Linked DNA regions of Homo sapiens. The protein of the gene in region 1 purifies or fractionates together with the protein of each later gene. This does not show direct contact. Each region holds a gene or a part of one and is shown on either strand. Other genes may lie near its edges. The genes, in order: ATP9A, VIPR1 and ADGRG5.

Evidence for each region.
Region 2: the proteins of ATP9A (region 1) and VIPR1 purify together in Homo sapiens (co-immunoprecipitation; one large-scale study listed by IntAct). This does not show direct contact.
Region 3: the proteins of ATP9A (region 1) and ADGRG5 purify together in Homo sapiens (co-immunoprecipitation; one large-scale study listed by IntAct). This does not show direct contact.

Annotation. Positions count from the first base shown.
Region 1 is NC_000020.11:51,621,820-51,625,465, forward strand, and holds part of ATP9A (probable phospholipid-transporting ATPase IIA), read right to left. Parts: intron 3,544-3,646; coding exon 3,373-3,543; intron 354-3,372; coding exon 255-353; intron 1-254. UniProt on the Homo sapiens protein: Plays a role in regulating membrane trafficking of cargo proteins, namely endosome to plasma membrane recycling, probably acting through RAB5 and RAB11 activation. Also involved in endosome to trans-Golgi network retrograde transport.
Region 2 is NC_000003.12:42,530,067-42,533,712, reverse strand, and holds part of VIPR1 (vasoactive intestinal polypeptide receptor 1 isoform 1 precursor), read right to left. Parts: intron 2,935-3,646; coding exon 2,781-2,934; exon of another isoform or gene 2,755-2,780; intron 2,243-2,754; coding exon 2,182-2,242; intron 1,911-2,181; coding exon 1,844-1,910; intron 1,693-1,843; exon of another isoform or gene 1,618-1,692; intron 1,472-1,617; coding exon 1,380-1,471; intron 1,150-1,379; exon of another isoform or gene 1,134-1,149; coding exon of another isoform or gene 1,088-1,133; exon of another isoform or gene 971-1,087; intron 1-970. UniProt on the Homo sapiens protein: G protein-coupled receptor activated by the neuropeptides vasoactive intestinal peptide (VIP) and pituitary adenylate cyclase-activating polypeptide (ADCYAP1/PACAP).
Region 3 is NC_000016.10:57,573,643-57,577,388, reverse strand, and holds the end of ADGRG5 (adhesion G-protein coupled receptor G5 isoform 1 precursor), read right to left. Parts: intron 2,575-3,746; coding exon 2,297-2,574; intron 1,952-2,296; coding exon 1,851-1,951; 3' UTR 200-1,850; downstream 1-199. UniProt on the Homo sapiens protein: Orphan adhesion G-protein coupled receptor (aGPCR). Ligand binding causes a conformation change that triggers signaling via guanine nucleotide-binding proteins (G proteins) and modulates the activity of downstream effectors, such as adenylate cyclase.

The DNA.
Region 1 (3,646 bases):
GACCCCCAAAAGGTTAAGAGCATGGCATTAGCACAGGGCTAGAAGGAGGTACTCCCAAACCACTACTGGAAGAAACTCTCCAGCCGGCGCCTGGGTCATTAATCATCCCATCCAAAGCAACCGTGGTTGATGCTCCCCACCCTAGGTAATTCACATGCTGCCCCTCCCTTCTTAAGGGGCCCACTCAAGGTTAGGAGGTTATAGGACAAATCGAACATCATCCCCACATGGCCCTAACGCAGAGGACACTTTACCAGCCGAAAAACGTGGATGTCTTGGTTTCTGGTCACCAGATGTGCATTCTTCGCTGTGCACGTAGCTGTCTCCAGCTTGTCCCCTGTCAGCATCCAAACCTGAAATCATGGCGTGACAGAGGTCCTGTTTATTAGTTTTTGAGGCCGGCCTGTCATCTGCAACAGCTGAGTTTCCAACAACATGGAGCTGAACTTGGTATGTTCCGTTTACCTCCTGCCGACTCATGCTGTCCCCAACACAACACAGCAAGCGCCCTGGCTGAAGGGCTCTGGGACTCCAAGCAACCACTGCTGGTAGCAGCAAAAACTGGCAGATGCTTCTAGAAAGGGCCATTTGGCCACACACTACAGGAGGTACTATGAAGCTCGGTCCTTGGACCGCATAATTCCCCTTCTGAGGATTTTTCTTAAAGTGATAAATATCCTAAAAGAAGGGAAAGGCTGTACAGGTGAGGGGGCACTTCCCTGTCCTACAGGAAACACTCATTTTTGACGCTGTGGACTTTCTATGTAGTTGGATGAGCAAGACAGACCCTTCTGGGGTTTAACTCAGCTTATAAAACGCTGACCGTAAATGAGTCAGGTTCTTCCGTATCGTGCATTAGCTCACACTGCATTTCTCTGCTGTGGGCTCAGAGAGGGTAGATGACTTGCCCCAAACCACACAGCTACCTCTTGTCCTAACCAGGCCCAGAATCCGGGTCTTTAGAGTCCTCATGGAATGTGCTTCCTGCTCTGTGATTTTACCTCATTAACCCTTTTGTTCTCTTTGCTCCCAGCTGGGAGCAGTCTTGGGGCTATCGGTCAAAGAAAATCTGGATAGGAGGGAAAGTATAGGAAAGAAGATCATGACAATTGTCTCCTGAGTGTCCACTACGTGCCCAGCACCCACGCTGAGCTCTCTGTTACCTTCATGACAGCTTCTGGAGGCTGGAAATGGAAGCGCTAAGAGCTTCAGTCATTTGCCAAGGGTCACAGAAGAAGTAAAGGGAGAGGTAGGATGGAAACCCAGGCAGTGAGACGGGCAGAAGGAAGGCACCGGGCACCTCTCAGGGCTGAGCCTCCCGGGCCCTCTCCCCTAGCTGGGTCTGTTTTCCCTCAATATCCCGCCTGTCCTAAAAATAATATTCTTTTTGGTGAGCTTCGTTTAGTCATAGTTCTCAGGGTTTGAGGTAAGAGAACAAACACTGGGGAAGGAATTGGGAAGTTCAAGTTCCAGAAAAGCATGAAAAGAACGATCAGGTGCACGACATGGCTAATGTCCCATGCTGTGATGAAGGCAAGGTACTACAGGAAGGGTCCAAGACCCCAGCTCCAGTCCCGGCTCTGCTGCTTCCCAATGTGAGAACCTGGGGAATGGAGACGCCTCACTTAGCCTCAGTTTCTACATCCATACAAGGGGCTGATTTAGAAAATATCCTGTGCAGCCAGGCGCGGTGGCTTACGCCTATAATCCCAACACTTTGGGAGGCCGAGGCAGGTGGACCACTTGAGGTCAGGAGTTCGAGACCAGCCTGACCAACATGGAGAAAACCCATCTCTACTAAATATCTAAATATACAAAATTATCCAGGTATGGTGGCACATACCTATAATCCCAGCTACTTGGGAGGCTGAGGCAGGAGAATCTCTTGAACCCAGGAAGTGGAGGTTGCAGTGAACCGAGATCGCACCACTGCACTCCAGCCTGGGCGACAGAGTGAAACTCTGTCTCAAAAAAAAAAAAAAAAAGAAAGAAAGAAAGAAAAGAAAAGAAAATTTCCTGTGCAAGATCGTATCTTAGACTTTAATTACCAACTAACCTGCCCCATCCCAGGCACTCCCCTCCTCCTGTCATCTAACAGGAAACTAGAATGGTAAGTCACATGCACACTCTGTGAATAAAATATCTCGTCTTGGGCTAACATAGTTTTGAGAAGGAGAAAAACCCCAGGACAAAGATGGAAGCAGAAAATGGAAACTCCAGAAGTCTTAGGAATGGCCAGGGCCCCACTGCAGACCCCACGATGAAGCAGAAATGGGCCTCCAGCGGCCAGACTTCCGGAAGCAAGGTCCCGTTGGTGATTTCCTTATGACGAACCAGGCCTGTGAGCCAAATGCAAGCGACAGAATTGGGTTTACAAGGAAACAGGCACGCAGGGGTGGGAGTCCCCAGTGGGCCTGAATGTTGCCTGGCATCTAACCTGTCCTCCTGCCATGGCCCTGCTGAAAGGACAGGCCCCAGGATGCAGCAGAGAGCCACTTTTGAGTGGAGGCCGGTGGCAGGCACACGTTTCCAGGAGCTCCAGGCCAATGAGTTTGGTTGTTCACACCTCCCTTGGTCCACTGAGGACCAGGTCCTCACGCGCCCTCTGCTGGCCCCTCCAGATTCAACTCCTAGTATTTTTTTTTGGGTCGCCACTGGTAGAGTGCAAAATGCTAATACGACAGTGTGATGGCGCTGACGGTCACTCTGCTGGGTGGTCACTCACTCACTTGGCCACACGGCAGACAGACCGGCGTGCTGATCACTCAACTAGAATTTAATCAGCAGCCATGCACGCTGGACACTGCTCGGCCTTGAGCACCAGGGAGCCCAGTGGAGTCAGGGGAGTCATCGGTACAGTAAAGGCAAACGCTACACAAGATGTCTTCCAAAATCAGGGCTGGAGGGCCAGGCACAGTGGCTCACACCTGTAATCCTAGCACTTCGGAGACTGAGACAGACAGATCACCTGAGGTCAGGAGTTCAAAACCAGCCTGGCCAACATGGTGAAACCCTCTATCTACAAAAATATAAAAATTAGCCAGGCGTGGTGGTACGTGCCTGTAATCCCAGCTACTAGGGAGGATGAGGCACAAGAATTGCTTGAATCCAGGAAGCAGAGGTTGCAGTTAACCAAGATCATGCCACTGCACTCCAGCCTGGGCGACACAGCGAGACCCCGTCTCAAAAAAAAAAAAAAAAAAAAAATCACAGTTGGAGGGGCAGAAACAGTGCCTGTGGCCCATTGCAGATAAGGCACTCCTGGTGTCCTCTGCTGCTCCTCCCACCCTTTCCCCCTGTGATCTCCCTGCACTGCTGAGGGATAACTGGCATTGCCCTGGAGTGCCCTTCCCTGCGGGCAGCCCGCCCTACCTTGATGCCAGCATTCCTCAGGGTCTCCAGCGTGGGCCGCACATCTGCCTGCAGCTGGTCCTCCACGCCCGTCAGGCACAGCAGTTCCATCTCCATCTCCAGGCTCTCGATCACCGTGGCCACTTTGAGGGAGCGGTCGTGCACACTCAGCTTGGCCTGGACGTAGCGGGCCTGGGACACACCAGCAGATGCAGTCACTGCTTAGGGTGAGGAGAGGCCAGGCTGACTGGCCAGTGCCAAGAGTGGAAGGGCCACACCCGATCCCCACCACACG
Region 2 (3,646 bases), on another chromosome or scaffold:
TTAAATCAAAGGCTTATGGGGAGGTGTAGAGTGGGAGCTGACAGCTTCTCCTTGAGGAGCTTCATCTCCAACTGCCCCCACCCCTTTTGCCTGCTGACAACTGTTTCCTTTCTGTCTCACCACACAGACCTGGCCCTGACCATGGCCAGCTCTGTTTGCCTCAGATTCAGGCCCTTTTGAACCATTGTAAGTTGGGGGAAATAAGGTCCCATCGGCAAAGGAGAGGATAAGGGTGCACAGGCCCGATGTGCTGCCCCTCAGCAGACTGCAGATGCCCCCCCCGTCCCCCCCAGCCTTTCCTTCTCAGACAGGAAGGGAAGCTCCGCCTACACACCTGGCAGGAGAGAATGCAGTCACACCAGGAATGTGAGTCTTAGTCTCATCAGGGAGAATCACAGGATTCCAGAATAGAATCCTAAATCCAGCAGTCTGTGACATTCTAGCCAGGAATCTTAGAACCACAGCACAGACTCTCCAAAGAGAAGCCAGGCCAAGAAGAATCCCAGGACTGGAAGGCCTTGTGGGACGTCCCAGGTTTGTCTTGTGTCAATAGCACTGATACTCAATCTCCTACTCCCATCTGTGAGCATGCAGACCCTACTTGCCTTCCCACAGCCTCCCTTTTCATATTTTTCATGTTTCTTTAGCTCTGTCTTCAAGCCTTGTTGCTCCCGCAAAAAAACCTGCCTCTTCCTCCAGTCCTCCCAAGCAGGGGGAACAGTCCTGACACCTTTCCAAGCCCTGGTCCATGGACATTGTGCCCCCTTCTCCCTGCCCATGGTGACCTGCTCCAAAACCCTCAAGGAGAAGGGAGTGTATGTCATTTCCTCCCTGTAAAGTAAAGATAATTTTGCAGGGGACTGTGTGGATGAAATGACATGATGCATGGAAATCCCTTAGCGTGTGCCTGGCATGTAAACTGCAGGTGTCATCATTATTACTGAGGAATACTGAGTCCCGAACATGGCTGTCTCATTGGTGGACTGGGGTCTCCCCCAGGGCATTCATCTACTATGTGTTTATTGCACCCTTTTTCCATGTGAGGCACATGCCAGGGACTGGGCACATGGTATGAACAAGACACAGGTCATCGGTGTCCTCTTGAGCTCCCTGGCTTGGCAGCAGATGCATACCTGGGAAGGATGCTAGGTGAGTGTGGGCAGGAGAAGCATGCAGGGCTCTGAGTGCAGCCTGGTGAGGGTGGGGCTGGAGCAGGGGATGGTGGTGGGCTGAGCCAGGCCATGGTGGAGGTGGGAAAGAACAATGTGGCTCTTTGGTGACTCTGGATGTTTGGGGTGGGAGGACTTCAAGGAGATGTGGGATGATTTGAGGACTGGGGATGGAGGTACTGGGGGCTGAGGCACTAGGCCCACACTCACGAGTATGGACTGCTGTCACTCTTCCTGATATCTGGGGGCCGCAGTTTCTGAAGCAGGATTCGGATGATGCAAATAAACAGGATGAAGTTTACCTAGTGGGTGGGGACCCGAGTTCGGGCAGTCAGAGCGGGAAGGCTGAGGTGTTCAGGCCCCTTGACTGCTGGCCTGTCTTCTTTCCCAGGGTCCTGCTGCCCCTCTCTCTATCTTACCTCTCCTCTGGCATTTCCCCTTTGGGCAGGTCATCCGGGAACTCTACCTCCTTCAAATCCCTAAGGACTGTGCTCCCAATCCGCTTACGCTCAAGGAAGAACTGGTAGGACAGGGGTGGGGATGATCCTGCATTGGGCATTAGGAAGCTACGTTTCAGTTCTGACCTAGATACTAATTTCCCATGTGACCTTGGGCTAAGTTGCCTGCCCTTTGGGCCTGTTTCCCCATCTCTAGGTGGTGGGAGGGTATCTTACCAAGATGGAGGTGAGGATGGGGCCCTTTATGATCCACCACAGTGAGGAGTTGATGGTGTCCCAGCACCTGAGCAGACCGTGGGGAGGAATGAGAGGGATTGTCCTCAGCCAGAGAGAGACTCAGCAGCACCTCCCCCAGTTGTCCCCAGCTCTGCTCCTGAGCACTTTAGCAACCCCGGGCCCAGAGTCTGTTGCTCCCCAGGTCCTCCTCCAGCCTCCCCTCTGGCCCGAGAGCTGTGGTTTTTGTCCACTCACCAAGGCCAGATGGCATTATCATCCCACCCAGGGGGCCTGCCCAAGTGATGGCGGCCGGGGGAGTGTGTGGGGCAGCAGCTCACCCATAATCCTCAAAATGGATCCTGGCGATGGTCCACACCATGGTGAATGTGCTGGGTACCCCTGTCAGGCCCAGGGAGAGTGAAAGAGCAGAGAGGGCACAGGAAGCAGGGGTAGAGGGCATGAGGGAGAGATTTTGGAGAAAAGCAGGGAGAGGGAGGGAGAGAGAAAAGGGTGGGTTGTCAGTCTGCTGTCTTTGGTTGCATAGGTTGTTCACCACGGAGGGATGCTCCACTGAGGGGGTGAAGCTGTATGCCTGAAGGGCTGTGTCTACCTAGACGGACATTCTCTTTCTAATTGTGACAGAGGCCCTTTATAGATTAGCAGTGGCCCTGTGTATTTCGGGAACTAAAGGGAAATGGAAAGATGTTCACAAAATCTGTCCCACAGGTCAGCCCTAGGTGCAGCTGCAACCTGAGGGACTTGTCCTGGGATCAGACATTTTGAGGACTTTCTTGACCCTTGGCTGATATCCTTGCAGGCAGGACCTGCAGCTAAGCAAGACGTAGGACTGCAAGCTGGGTTGGCACCCTCCCCCTAGGGAGTTCTCCAGGCCTTGCCCCCTCTGTCCCCAGCCTGGAAGCCCTCCCTGGTACCATACCCCAGCCGATGAGTATGTACCCCCAGAAGTACTTCCGCTCAGAGAAGAAGGAGACGGCAAGCAGGGTGTACAGGTAGAGGCCCTCCACCAGCAGCCAGAAGAAGTTAGCCATGACACAATATTGGAAAAAGACCATGGCTGCCTTACAGCCCACCTGCAGGGGGAGGAGAAAAGACGGGGTTCACTGGGGCTGTCAAGGGTCCTTGACTGCCCACACTCGTGTCTGGGGGGACAAACACAGTTGCAGTGCAGCCAACTTAATCTCTTTGTTGTTTTGCATTATCCCCTTAAAAATGTACTCATTGGTTTTCCCATTTTCCCTAATTTTAGATCCTCTGATACTTCGGGATAAACTGGTGATTTTAATTATCCATCCATCAATTCATCTATTCACCTTCCCATCTATATATCTACCCATCTGCCCATTCAATCATCTACCCACCTATCCATGTATCCATTTATTTACCCACTCACCCACTAGACATTCACTATCAACTCACTCATTTATCCATTTTTTATCCATGTGTCCATCCATCATCTATCATCTTCCCATCTATCAATCCATCCACCCACACACCTATCTCTCCATTCTTCTACCAACCCACTCAGTCATCTACCCATCCATTCATCTCTGCACCCACCCATCAATCCACTTGTGCATCCACCCACATATCTACCTACCTGCCCCTCTGCCTATCATCTGTCCAATCTTCCTTACTTAACCCATTTATCCTGCTGCCTACTTAGCCATCCACCAACCTGCCCATCCACACTCCCACCCCACCCACTCATTCATCTAATGCCAATTTGTATTGAAGGTAGCTGGAAGGTATGAGGGAGAATTCTTGCTTGAGTTTCAAGAGTCT
Region 3 (3,746 bases), on another chromosome or scaffold:
AACAGCAGAAAGTCAGCGAGGTGGGAGTAGAGACCCGTCTGGGGAAAGAAACTGAGGCATGGTGAGATGTGCCTAAGAAGGGGTTGTGCCTACAAGGTTGAGCAGAGCTGGGCCTGGGGCTTAGACAGGCTGGCCTCTGAAACTCAGTTAACACTGTTAACAATAATAGCAAAAATACTAATGATAATACCAGTAACCATTTACTGAGCACTTACTCTGTGCCAAGTCTCTTTATTTGAATTCTTTTACTTAGTCTTCAAAATAGGTACCACTATGGCCTCTATTTTACAAATAGGAAAACTGAGGCACACAGAGGCTGAGTGGTTTGTCCACAGTCTCACAGCTAGCAAGTGGCAGAGCTGGCATTGGAGCCCAGGCAGCCTGGCTCCAGAGCCTACGCCACTCACTGCCTGGTGAAGGAGTTATTTGCATCTAGAAATGTACAGAAGAGCAGAAGATGTCCCAGGAGAACTTTTCCCCAGGGGAAATCCTGCTCCTATTTTCTGCCTGTGACCTTCGAGGTCATCAAAACGGCCCAGTGGCCTGGGGCAGGGCCCTGAGCACCCACCACCTGAGCACCCTGCTCTGGTGCCAGCTATGTCTGGGGTGCAGCCCCCAAGAGCGAAAGTGCACCGCCGCATTGGGAAAAGAGACAAATGGCCGTGTAAGCGTGTCTTGCCTTTCCTCCTGGAGGAAATGGGTCACTCAGTAGGCGCAGTCCTGCAGTTACGGCCCCTCCAGCTGGTGCATGGGGTCTGCAAACAGGTGTTTGAGCGATTCTAGATGCAGTCTTGGCGCCAAGGGCCTCTGAGTGTGGACCAACGGTGCCGCCTAGTGTTCGTTCTGGGAAACGCACTGGCTTCATGAGCACTGTCTCATGAAGGTCTGGGGTAAGGGTGATTCTCTGAAACTATGGCCTGAGCTTCGAATTTAAAACCCACACTCTCACGCCTACCTGGGCAAATTCAATCTTGCCCAATCACCAAACAGCCAGGACACTGGGATCCAGCTGATTCAGCTGGAGGAGAAAGAAGCGTTTTCCTCTGCCCCCAAGAAAACTGCGGGATGGGCTACTGGTCCAGATGGTCTATGGAAGTCTTGGGAGCACCGCAGGAGGAGCCTCTGGGAACGGCGGAACCTCCCAATCTTTGGGAAGGGTGGGCTTGGACTTGGAGTCATCATAATTTAGGGAGTTAAAGGAAAAGAGGCCTCAGGCATAGGCCAGTAAAGTCTCAGAGCCTGGGTAGGTCCCACCCGCCCCAAGCCAGGATGCCATCTGGCCCTCCCCTGGAGGAAGGTGGCAGGGCCAAGCAGGTGCTTCCAGGGCAGCCTGAATGAGATCCTGCCCCTAGCAAGCAGGTGGAGGCCGCGGGAATTCCCACCCCACGCTGACACTCTTCCCCCTGGTCTTATGCAATTTTTACTAAGCTCCTGGGTTAGGCTGAAACAAAGCCGCTTGCCCCCATGTCACAGCTGTGGATACCTAGGGTCTGTGAGAAGTGGCAGGCCCAAGGTCATACAGACAGACTCAAAGACAGTCCTTGAAACTTGGCTTCCTGATGCCCAGGCTGGTGCTCTGCCCACATCCCTGGCGAGCTGGGCCCAGGTACCAGGACAAAGTTTGCTGCCCCAGGTAAGGTTGGATCTGCCCCGGAGCAAAATGTCAGGGAGAGGTAGAGCAATGCCTTCCCCTCAGTGCCTGGAGAGGCCGTGGAAGTGGAAAAGGCCCCTTGGCGGTCACAGTGGCCTCTGGGGTCCAGCAGCAGGCCTGCCACCCTCTCTAGCAGGAGCCGTAGCCTCAGGCTACTGGCGGCCAGAGAGGCTGAGGATTCCAGGCCAGGAGGCCCGGACTACTGTGTTGTTTGGGAGGAGCTGAAGGCCTCTATCTGTGCCTTGGCCTCTGCTTCTGAGCGGCACCGCTGGGAGCAGAACCACAGGAAAAGGAAGAAACCTGCAAGAGAAAGGCGGGAGTTCCACGGGGCAGCATGGGCTTCCCCAAAGGCCAGGGTCTCCTTGGCTGCAGCGAGCTGGCCTCCCTGGGGCCCATGGGCAACTCCCAGAATCTCTTACTGTAGGAGGCCAGAGGGGCAGAGCCTCAGAGCTGGAAGAGCTGCTGTGGCCAGTCCATAGGGTACCTTCATGCAGATGTAGCCCCCACCAGCTTAGCTAGTGGAGCTGTGGGCTGGATGTTAGTCCCCCACTCGCCCCCTTCACCTGAACCCCTTTAGCAGTGAACATCCCACCAGCCATACACCCCCTGCCAGGTAGCTTCCTCCAGGCCGCCCTCCAGCCCTACCGTAGAGCGAGTTTAAGATGGTGAAGAGGAACAGCTGGGGCAGCAGGAAGACGCCAAAAGAAAAGAAGGCCAAGGCCCAGGTGGTTCCCAGCAGCACGGTGAGGCCCAGCACAGTGACAGTGTCATGGCAGGCCCTGACACTTGGTGCATCCGCCCGCTCCCGCAGCCTGCGCAGGGTCCACAGCGCCCAGGCCAGCACCACCAGGTTGAAGAGGGACGTGAGGCCGCCGTAGCCCATGACCAGGACACTGTGCACCACGGGGCTCCGCACCCAGCATCTGCAGGGGAGGGTGACGTGTCAGGCTCACAGTGGCTCCCAGGCCCGCGGGGAGGCCAGCATCACTCCCTGAAGCCCCACTCGGTCTCCTGGCTCAGGCCCTATTGTTTCTTGCCTGACTGAACACACAGTGAAACCCCTCACCCGGCTTTCCAGCCAGGCCACCATCAGAGGACACATCTGCCTCCTTGGTCAACAATCTGAAGCTCCCTCATGCCCACCTTTCCAGCCACAGTGGTTTCTCTCACGTCCCCATGTCTTCACCCCCCTGAAAATTCTTCCTCTCTCCTTTCCACATCTCACTCCTCTCTGCTTCCATGGCCAGCCCAAGGCCGGCATGCCCCATCTTCTATTGGATCCTTGGCCCGGAGCCCTCTTTCCTGGAAACTTCCCCTTCCACCCCACTACATGGTTGTCACCACCTCATCACCATCTCTGCAGTGGGACGCCCCTCCCCAGGAGCCACTCCCCACCTAGACGGGGCCACCAAGGCCTGCGCTGGAGAGTGGGCGGGCTGCCAACCTGTGGCTTGGTGGACAGGGACCCTCCAAGTGTCAACCTGAGAGCACACAGAGCCGCAGGAGAGCCCACTGAGGGCTGAGCAGAGAGCCATGGAGAACTAACCGAAGCCAGCCCCGGTCCCACGCCCTCCCGGAGGCCTCTGCCCTTTGCCTCCCCAAGACACCTTCAAGACAGATGCCACCTTTTAGTCGGACACAATGTCATGCTGAGGCAGGAGAAAAGGGTTTAGAGACAGGGAAATGTAAGGACTTCCTAGAACTAAATCAAATGGAGGCCAGGCGCGGTGGCTCATGCCTGTAATCTCAGCACTTTGGGAGGCCGAGGTGGGCGAATCACTTGAGGTCAGGAGTTGGAGACCATCCTGGCCAACATGGTGAAACCCCGTCTGTACTAAAAATACAAAAATTAGCTGGGCGTGGTGGCAGGTGCCTGTAATCCCAGCTGCTCGGGAGGCTGAGGCAGGAGAATCACTTGAACCCGAGAGGCAGAGGTTGCAGTGAGCCGAGATCGCACCACTGCACTCTAGCCTGGGTGACAGAGCGAGATTCCATCTCAAAATAAATAAAAATAAATCAAATGGAAACACTTCAGCTATGACAGAAAATATCCTCTCCATTTACATAGGGCATATGCCAAATGACTTTGTAACTT